Linked DNA regions of Homo sapiens: region 2 is linked to region 1. The links come from fine-mapping of genetic effects on gene expression. Tissue or cell type: tibial nerve. Region 1 holds a variant in brackets; the other region holds the start of a gene. All regions are shown on one strand. Distances are between the middles of the regions. Region 1 overlaps TRPV3 (transient receptor potential cation channel subfamily V member 3). Region 2 holds the start of ASPA (aspartoacylase).

What was found.
Region 2: it holds the start of ASPA, and the variant in region 1 is fine-mapped to the expression of ASPA in tibial nerve (GTEx, PIP 0.97). The same link has a PIP of 0.9 or more in caudate.

Annotation. Positions count from the first base shown.
Region 1 is chr17:3,528,799-3,534,175 of GRCh38, reverse strand. TRPV3 (transient receptor potential cation channel subfamily V member 3) reads left to right here. Exons shown (of 18, transcript NM_145068.4): 8 at 1,239-1,519; 9 at 3,973-4,149; 10 at 5,181-5,339. Among named protein-coding and RNA genes, the nearest start is that of TRPV3, 26 kb to the left of the region's middle. The variant T/C (reference allele first, on the strand shown) is at 2,408.
Region 2 is chr17:3,473,163-3,478,539 of GRCh38, reverse strand. ASPA (aspartoacylase) reads right to left here and starts at 2,543. Exons shown (of 6, transcript NM_000049.4): 1 at 2,145-2,543. The coding sequence starts at 2,380. It also overlaps a transcript of SPATA22 not described here.

The DNA of each region.
Region 1 (5,377 bases):
GTCCAGTTCATCGTGTGTCCCCATTGCCCTGCATAGGAGCTGGTTGGACCTGGTGTTGGGAAGCATTTGTTGGGTGGGGCGAGGAGAGGGGAGGCAGCTGAAGACCTGGTGTCCGGAGCTGGTCGTGTCCCAGGCTTGCTGTGTGACCTCATGTGAGTCACTTGCCTTATTTTTTCTTAACAAGCATTTATTGAGCACTTACTGTCTACATCAGGCACTGTTCTAGGTACTTGAAATGTATCAGTGAACAAAATAGAGATCCTTGCCCTCATGGAACTTACATTCTAGACAGGGAGAGACCATCGGTAATAAGCACTATAAATAAGAATTTTATATACTATGATATGAAATGATAAGTGCTCTTAAAAAATACAAAGTAGACCGAGTGCAGTGACTCACATCTGTAATCCCAGCACTTTGGGAGGCCAAGGCAGGTGGATCACGAGGTCAGGAGTTCAAGACCATCCTGGCCAACATGGGGAAACCCCATCACTACTAAAAATACAAAAATTAGCCGGGCGTGGTGGCGGGCGCCTGTAGTCCCAGCTACTCAGGAGGCTGAGGCAGGAGAATAGCTTGAACCCGGGAGGCAGAGGTTGCAGTGAGGCGAGATCGCACCACTGCACTCCAGCCTGGCGACAGAGTAGGACTCCATCTCAAAAAAAAAAAAAAAAGTAAAGCAGAGGACAAGGAACCAAGAGTTCTGTCTGGGACAAGAGGAGGGTGGATTTTAATTTTAAATAGAGTGGTTAGGGTGGCTCACTGAAAGGTGACATTTGAGCAAGGACTTGAAGGAGGTGAGGGAGAAAGTGACTGGGCTATCTACAGGCAGAGGGGACAGCCGAGCGAAGGCCCCCAGGCGGCGTGTTGGAGGAGGTGGAAAAAGGCCGTTGTAGCAGGAGGGAGTGAGTGATGGAGAGAGGAGGTCAGAGTATGCAGGGCTTTGTGGGCTGTCATTGGAACCTGTGCTTTCATTCTGGGGGAGGCACTAACAGGTTGGTCTGGCTGCTGTGCTGAGCAGAGTATTAAAGGGCCAGGGTGGAGGCAGGGAGGCCAGTTAGGAGGCTACCGCAGTGATCTAGCTTCACTCTTCCCCGTAGAAGCGGAAGATGGGGAGAGGGCTAGGGAACCTGAGGTGCCCATCCTGCTGAGATAGGATATGGGCCCCAGTCCTGGGGCTTGGGGGACGCTGCTTCCGGCCCATGAGAGAACCAAGCTTCAGTGCGCTCATCCCCCAGGTGAGACGCCCCTGGCCCTGGCAGCATGCACCAACCAGCCCGAGATTGTGCAGCTGCTGATGGAGCACGAGCAGACGGACATCACCTCGCGGGACTCACGAGGCAACAACATCCTTCACGCCCTGGTGACCGTGGCCGAGGACTTCAAGACGCAGAATGACTTTGTGAAGCGCATGTACGACATGATCCTACTGCGGAGTGGCAACTGGGAGCTGGAGACCACTCGCAACAACGATGGCCTCACGCCGCTGCAGCTGGCCGCCAAGATGGGCAAGGCGGAGGTGGGGCCATGGGGCGTGGGGAGGCAGGAGGTCGGGAGGTCAGGAGGTACAGCTGCCACCCTCTCAGCCCCGGGGGCCTTACTGGGGATTCACAAACCACAGCCTCAGCCTTGAGAAGGTCCCAGCCTTGGGTCCAGAACTGCAGTGGCGTGGCGGCCGGAGGCAGGTTTGTTCTGAGGGGCCACGCGGAGCTGGTGCGATGCAGCCCACTCTCTAGACTTCAGTCCCTAATACGCCGCGTTTCCATCTCTTGTCCTGGGAGGGCTAGGCTGGGGGAGCCTGAGGCTGAGGTGACACAATAGCCCCAGCAGTGGGTGGCCCTTGGGGCCTTCTGCCTCTCACGAGGACGGGAGTTCCAGAATGGCTGCTGCGGGCGCAGCGCTAATATGCTGCCATTTCCCAATTATGGGGAGACCCCAGCCTGTTTGTGCGGTTGGAACTCTGTGCCAGGTCCCCAGCCAAGAGTGTGGCCGCTTTGGGCCCTTCTTGCCTTGTGTGATGTGGCTGAGAAATCGAGGCTTGGCTGGGAGCCTTGGTGAAGACTTGAGCAGGGCTGGGCTCAGATCTCTTTCAGGGGCCGGTGTCATGGCTTGGTCTGAGATGTTCTTCTCAGGGGACTGATTCTGGGGTCCAAGCGTGTTCCTCAGCCTCACTGTCTCTACGCTCTGCGAGGAGGCTGTGGCTCCTGGGACGCCATCAGAGGACACTGGGGGGTGGTGACTGTTGAGTAATCGCAGCTGTGCCAGCCTCAGGGTACCCGCCTCCCTGGTCAGCTGCCCCGAGGGCCTTGGTCCTGTCCCAAGTGGTCAGGGCTGGGACCCACAAGGGGCCTTTTGATTCTCCCGTGGGGGAGGAGGAGATGGAGAACGGCTTCAACAGAGGAGGAAT[T/C]GTGTGTCTGCCTCCCCGCAGCTCCTGCCTACCCTCAGGGTCACAGCTTGCTGGGGCTTTGAAGAGTCAGCTTGTGGTTGCAGAAGGAGCCTTCTCCAAGGCCGTCTTCCCTGTGTGCCACTGTGGCGGGTGCTGTCCCTGCCACCCCAGCCCAGGGAGGAGGCTTCCTGCATGGAGCATGGTCCCAGGACCCCCTTGTTTTCTAGGGGACAGTGTGCCCGCTGTGGCCGGCCCGGGGGAGGCACCTGTCTCCCGCTTCCCTCCTCTGTTCCGTGTCCTCCAGAAAACTTTTCTGGATGCTGCCCAGCTTGGCCACCGTCCTGGGGCTTTTATAGGCTGGGGTGCGGGGCGGAGAGACCTGGCCTTATCCCTAGAAGCTCTCTGCCTGGGCTCTCATGACAGATGGGATGGGAACCCAGTGGGTCTTGTGAGGCCAGGTCTCTGACACTGTCCTTCCCAACAGTCCCTTCCTCTTGGGTCTTGAGTTGGTGTCCTAGGAAGTCCATGTCTCATCCTGGGGTAACCCAGGGCTCAGCTTTTTGGAAGTAGGAAGCCAGAGACAGCAGCTCTGTGTCCAGCCTGCACTTTGGAGCCAACCAGGAAGCTTCACAAATACAGACTCCTGGGTCCCACCCTGGATATTTCGATTTCATCAGTTGATGCTGTGGGAATTTTTGGTTTTTTTGTTTGTTTGTTTTGTTTTGTTTTTTTTGAGACTAGAGTCTCACTTCATTGCCCAGGCTGGAGTGCAGTGGCGCAATCATGGCTCACGGCAACCTCCACCTCCCAGGTTCAAGCGACTCTCCTGCCTCAGCCTCCTGAGTAGCTGGGGTTACAGGCGCCTGCCACCACACCCAGCTAATTTTTGTATTTTTAGTAGAGACAGGATTCCACCATGTTGGCCAGGCTGGTCTCGAACTCCTGACCTCAAATGATCCACCCGCCTCGGCCTCCCAAAGTGCTGGGATTACAGGCGTGAGCTACTGCACCTGGCCATGCTGTGGGAATTTCTAAGTTTCCCAGCAGCCCTAACATGCAGCAGAGTTTGAGGATCACTGGCCTACCGAAGTCCCACGGGCCTCCCTGTAGGGCGTGGTGTCTCTCGTCACCACCTGCCTGGCCAGAGTGGTGAGCCACAGCTGGAGGAGTCTTGGCTTAGGGTGGGCTGGGGACGCTGAGAACACTTCTGGCTTCTTCTCAAGTCCAGAGCAAATGGAAACTGTTTCTAAAAAATCATCAGTGCCTGGATTTTTCACCGAACCGGGTCCCCAGCTGGCGTGAGGCATTTCAAGCTGATTGTGCAGCTTGCTGCAGCCTGCGAAGAACCTTCACACCCTTTGTCCCTGGTATTCACAACCCCCAGTGAGATGGGCGGAACAGCAAGCTTTGTGCGCATTCCACAGATAAAGACGGGGCCCAGGGGCCATGGCGCCAGGCGCAGAGGCAGGTCTCCACCCATTCTGGGCGGGTGTATCCCCTGGGCCCAGCCAGCCTCTGGCTGGTCCAGCCCTGTTGGCCTTAAGCCCCTGTTCTGCAGCTGATGGTTGTTCCTCCTCCTGTCCCAGATCCTGAAGTACATCCTCAGTCGTGAGATCAAGGAGAAGCGGCTCCGGAGCCTGTCCAGGAAGTTCACCGACTGGGCGTACGGACCCGTGTCATCCTCCCTCTACGACCTCACCAACGTGGACACCACCACGGACAACTCAGTGCTGGAAATCACTGTCTACAACACCAACATCGACGTGGGTCTCCTGCACAGGCGGGGAAGGGCAGGGAGAAGAGGGCTGGACCTCAGGCCAGGGGCTGAGAGGACGCTGGGAAGACCCAGTGCTGCCAGCTCCATCCCTCGGCATCTGCATACCCCACTCTGTTGCCTCAGTGAGCAGAGTCAGGCACAGAAAAGGCGAGGCCTGGGACAGATGCTGGGCCCGACTCTTCCTGATTGACCTTGGACTGTAGACCTGAGTGGTGGTGGCGGGGGCGGTGGGCGGGAGGTCTTCTGGACCGAGTATCCAGGGCTGTTTGGGTGTGGGTGTGGGTGATGGGGTGATTGGGGTTGATCCTTTCCATATTGTTTCTCTCCCACCCCCCGTTGGTGTATACGGCCAGGCTTAGAATTCTTTCTTCCCCAAAACCTGGTCCCAAATGAGGGTCAGAGAGTGCACTGAGGAGCAATCGGGGGGCCTTCCTGGAGGAGGCTAGAGGGGAGAGTTCGGTGCAACTGGAGGTGAAGAGAGGAGCAGCTATGAGAGGTGTTCAGCTCTTGGGGGCAGTGAGGCAGCAGGCTGGGTCTTCCTCCTTCATACTTTACTAAGAGTCATGCTTCCCAGAGTCCCCTTGCCTTGGGTCTTCCCAGACCCTCACAGCAGCCTGGTTGGTAGGGCAGGGATTGTTAGCAGTTTTATAGGTGAGGAGTCTGAGGCCCAGAGAGGGTCAGGGTCTGTCCTAAAGTCACACAGCAAAGGAGGAGCAAACTGGGGCTGGAACCCCTGCCACCACCTCCTGCCCGCTTCTATCCTCCACTTTCTGCTGTGCATCGGGTCCTCCTGCTGCAAGCCCGGGCTCCTGCGGCCTCTGACTGCTGCCCTAGTACCCTGGGGAGGAGCCTCAGGAGCCGGAAATCACCCTCCCAGCATTTCCAACCAGACCAGTCCATCGGGCATAATGATGGGCCCCTTCTGCAGCACTGACTCAGAGCTCCCGCAGGCCTTTAGAAAACGGTCCCTCCCTCTCTCCCTCATCTCCATGGTGACTGGTGGCATTCTACCCCTAGAACCGGCATGAGATGCTGACCCTGGAGCCGCTGCACACGCTGCTGCATATGAAGTGGAAGAAGTTTGCCAAGCACATGTTCTTTCTGTCCTTCTGCTTTTATTTCTTCTACAACATCACCCTGACCCTCGTCTCGTACTACCGCCCCCGGGAGGAGGAGGTACGTGGGCCCCTTGGAGGGGGAAAATGGGGCCGTCA
Region 2 (5,377 bases), 56 kb after region 1:
ATTCTTACTTGTAATATAGAAGTTAGTTAACAGCTCTCTTAGGTCAATAGATAAGCATGAATTGTGTTGACATAACCTCAGTCATGAAGATAAAGCATTTCTCAAATTAAAATTTATGCTAGTAAAAATATGATTTGATACAAACAGGATGACTGCAGTATAATTGCCCTGAAAAACATCTATTCCATAAAGTGAGGCATGTTTCTATTAAGAGTAGTGTCCATGTTTTGATCTGTGTTGAGACTAAACCTAAGGAGTGATCTAACTCAAATTAGAGTTGATCAGAAAACAAGCACATAGAACAGTGGCTAGTTGTGCCTGTGCATATCTTATATATATATATATTTTTTTTTTTGAGACGGAGTCTCGCTCTGTCACCCAGGCTGGAGTGCAGTGGCACCATCTCTGCTCACTGCAAGCTCCGCCTCCCAGGTTCACGCCATTCTCCTGCCTCAGTCTCCCGAATAGCTGGGACTACAGGTGCCCGCCACCATGCCCGGCTAATTTTTTGTATTTTTTTTAGTAGAGACGGGGTTTTACCGTGTTAGCCAGGATGGTCTTGATCTCCTGACCTCATGATCTGCCTGCCTCAGCCTCCCAAAGTGTTGGGATTACAGGTGTGAGCCACTGTGCCCGGCCATGTATCTTATATCTTAGCTAGTAGTCTACCAACTCCTTGAGGGGTAGAAACCAAGTTGTATAGAGCTGTGTACTCCCCCAGTACCTGGCACAGTTTCCTGAGAAAAACAGATGTTTCAGAATATTTTTTAGTAAAAGAAAAAAAGCGGCCCAGCGCGGTGGCTCATGCCTATAATCCCAGCACTTTGGGAGGCTGAGGCAGGCAGATCACCTGAGGCCAGGAGTTTGAGACCAGCCTGGCCAACATGGAGAAACCCCGTCTCTACTAAAAATACAAAAAATTACCCGGACATGGTGGCAAGTGCCTGTAATCCCAGCTACTCGGGAGGTTGAGGCAGGAGAATCACTTTAACCCGGAGGTGGAGGCTGCAGTGAGCTGAGATTGCACCATTGCACTCCAGACTGGGCAACAAGAGCGAAACTCCATCTCAAAAAGAGAAAGAAAGAAAGAAGTGGTAAAAAGCAAATATGTGGAGTCATATTATATCCACAGTGGTAGCTATTATGATGTAAACGAAGGCAAAAATAATTAATAAGGACCTAACCTAGCATGTTATGACTGCTTACGTTGTATGCAATATATTACAAATCAGCAAAATATAAGCTCTGAAAATTCAGATGGTGTCTTTAGTTCTCATCTCTGGTATCCCATCTACAACAATCCACCATGGAAGTTAAGTACGTCTGCTACTTCGGATCACAGGGAGGTCTGATGTCTTTATTTTTATTTATTTATTTATTTTTTTGAGACGGAGTCTTGCTCTGTCTCCCAGGCTGGAGTGCAGTGGCACAATCTTGGCTCACTGCAAGCTCCGCCTCCCGGGTTCACGCCATTCTCCTGCCTCAGCCTCCCAAGTAGCTGGGACTACAGGCACCCGCCACTACGCCCGGCTAATTTTTTGTATTTTTAGTAGAGATGGGGTTTCACTGCATTAGCCAGGATGGTCTCGATCTCCTGACCTCGTGATCCGCCTGCCTCGGCCTCCCAAAGTGTCTGATGTCTTCTGACAAAAGATATTTAATCACGCTTTCATTCAACAAATATTACTTGAAACATTACATTTTTTGAACTAGAACTTTATGCATTACCGTAAGCATAGTTGCTTGAAAACGTAGTGAATTTCCTAAAAAGCTAACAATTTTATATGCAAGCATAGTGGCCAAACACTAACTCAATGCAAAGGAGTATTAAATCTGTTTCTTTAAAGGTATGATTTTAAAACAAAACCCTTTTCTATTTATTGTCTCAGTCTGTATACATTTGAAAAGAAAACTTAATAATCTGGTGCTTAAGAAGGTTTATAAAAGAGCATGTGAATGCCCAGTTTAGATAATTGTGCAATTCACAATGCAGTATAATTAAAAGTGAAAGTGATCTTATTCAACATACGACTGCATGTACGGACATGAATTATCATCTGCATATACATATATGTGTTCTCTTTCACACACCTACCACTTTTCACACAACATACATACATATACAATACAAAGCATAGTCTTACCCAAGATTTTCAAGGTCAAAAATGCGATTCAGGTCACAGTCAATATATCTGGTACACTTCTTCACTGCTCTGGGGTTAGTAATAAATGGTTTTACCTCCAGCCCTGTTCTCTGAATCTCAGCGCCATTCTCTAGCCAATGCTTAACCAGAAATACTCCGGTTAGCTCATTCCCATGGGTTCCTCCAAAGATAGCAACCTTTTGTATATGTTCTTCAGCAATGTGACAAGAAGTCATTTCACCAAGTAGTTTTTATCTGATTTCTGCAATTCAGAAGAGAGATCAAAGGAAATTCGATTTTCTTAAGAAAGGTTTAGAAATGTAAATGAGACTTTACCCAAAGGGCAAAGTACAGAATTCCCTTGAGTGGAGTATATTTTAATTTTCTGTTACAAGTTCTGAGCCCCGTTTATGGACACTCCCTTCTTTAGCCCTGCCCTTTGCCATATTTGGATTAAAATATGCAAAGATCAACTAGAGATACAGCTGTTTACTTTAACTTCTAACTCCCTCAGATGGTCAGTAGATCTAAATACAGTAATAAATTAGCATTTCATACTAATACAAAAATTCCATTCTTTTCCTCAGCTAGGATGTCATCCAGTGAGGCTTTCACAATTATCTGTAATAATAAAAATAGTTTATACGTTTCTAATTTCACAAAATAAAAAAGTGGCCCACTCAGTATTTCCACGGGCATTTCAAAACATTTCTTCTCTGAAATGAGTTCAAGCACTTTTCATGATCTGAGGGCATTTGAATCTCACCTCTATAAACAGCCAAAGGCTGACCCTCAGAGACCTCCTCTTGAACCGGCGCCCATTCTTTCAGAATGCTTTTTCACAATCAGAAACAGAAGGGCCAAATCAATGATCACTTGGGACTCGAAAAGCTACCCTGAAACATCCCTTCATTTCTTTCTCATGAGGTTTTTGGTAATTCTGTGTTAACTTACTTATGAATCTTCCTCATTTTTTGCCTAAATACCAAAGGAAAGACAACTGTTAGTACTTTTCAAGTTTTTGTGATGCCTGAAAATGTCTTGGGACACACTGCATGTGCTAACCACATCATGTGAACTTACATAGACACAGCCTTATTCACTGTCAGCGGGGACTCTCCACTGGACTGTGTTACTCAAAAAGGGGTCTTATTAGGGGAAATTTTCCAGAATACTAAGATGATTACATCCCTTTGGAGAAATGACTCTGAGCCAAATCTGATTTGATTTCATGCTCAGTCACCCAGAAAGTCACATATGTTCAAGTACTGGGAATACCATGTACTAGTAACGCCAGGTTGTTTGATAGAGGGTACAATAAGAGTAATTTATTACAATTGCAGAGTTTAATTTATAATGTCCTTTCACTCAGTTTATTCATACATTAATTTTATACGATAGGGTGGGTTAGGTGTTGACATCCCCACTGCAGGGGTAAACGAAAGAGAGGTTAAGTAACTCAGTTAAGGTTCTGCAGGGATGTAGGAGAACCTAGGCCTGAGACCCATGTTTCTCATCCCAAGTCTAGTGTTTTTCACAGGACAATAGGGTGCCTCTCTGTTATTTTTGGTCTTCTTCACAGTTCTAGTTTTGCTCTTTCAGAATTCACATAAACAGCCATTACAGTGTGCTCAGGAAACAAACATGCATACAAACCAAATACATGGTGGAAAAATAAAATATGAATGCTTCCTAATATTTAATAAACCCACTGAATGTTCTTCCTTTAAGAGCTTATAATGCAGAGATAGAGAAAGCAAAATAACCACATCAAATCTATGCATTAAAATGACTGTTCTAATAGAAAAAAAAAGCTCCTGTAGGCTTTGACTGTCTGTCCACATCCATGTACACTGAACACTTCAGACGGTGTAGAGATGATGAAAACACACGTAAAAGTAAACAGATGACAGTTGTTTAGTTGCTTTGGTTTTAAGAGCAGTAACCATGGTGAATTATTAACACTCTACTATGCTTGGTTTCTTTTCTGCTGATTTGTAGTTTGTTCTGTCCTTTGCCCTAGTCTCTCTGGAAATGCTGCTTCAGTTATTTACTCGTAGCTGGCACAAATGACTTGCATTTTGAAGCTTGTTTTATGGAATTTTAACAGATCAGCACTTTGAAGCACATTTCACATTCATAAATAAAGTTTCTCTTACATGTCAAAATGAATAACTTTTTTGAGAGTTAATGAATTGCAGCAATTATTTCCCATACTTACCTTGTTTTTTGTGTACAGAGTTTGTCTTCTGTGGAAAGCTTTATTAGGAAAAAGGAGAGCATTTCCTCAGAAGTAGAGCAACAGAGGCTTTTCATACTCTTATACCAAGTTAACTTCCGAAAGATTTTTAACTCCCTGTTTCCCAAAGTGTACTTGATTTTTGGGATGACCCAAAAAACCACACTTTTTTATTAGTTCTCAGCGAACTGATAGTATACGAAGTGAAACCCTTTCGAATTGTCACTATCTCATTATTAAGTTGAATATATAATATTCTGAAGTACTTAAAAGAGTAAGCATAACTTCCAGCATTACAAATGTTTTGTGGGATAGAGTTGCCTGATGTATTAATAAAATAATGTAGTTTAAAACAAAAGGATGCCAGGTGTGGTCTCATGCTTGTAATCCCAGCACTTTGGGAGGCCGAGGTGGGCGGATCACCTAAGGTCAGGAGTTCGAGACCATCCTGGCCAACATGGTGAAACCCCGTCTCTACTAAAAATACAAAATTACCTGGGCGTGGTGGCGGGTGCCTGTAATCCTAGTTACTCAGGAGGCTGAGGCAGGAGAATCACTTGAACCTAGAAGGCGGAGGTTGCAGTGAGCTGAGATTGTGCCATTGCACTCCAACCTGGGGAACAAGAGCGAAACTCCGTCTCAAAAACAAAACAAAACAAAACAAAAGGAGAGCAGAGTTTTACTTCACAGTCATGGCTGTCCAGTAGATCCCTGCCAGAAATTTTGTAGGAGACAAATTTAAGGTGGGTTGTTTCCCAAATGGTATGACTGGGGGATAAGAAGGGTTTTTTGTTAAATATTATACATAAGATGTCTCATACATAATGTGATGTTCAGTAGTTATGTAATCAAACTACTTTTACTACTTTAGTTTTCTCCTTCCCTGTGATCCATCCTGACCAACTTTCCAGGTGGAAATAAATAAGCAGAAAAAGACAAGTATAAAACAGATTAAGTTTATAAACTGCTAGCAAATATTCTATATTGCTCATGT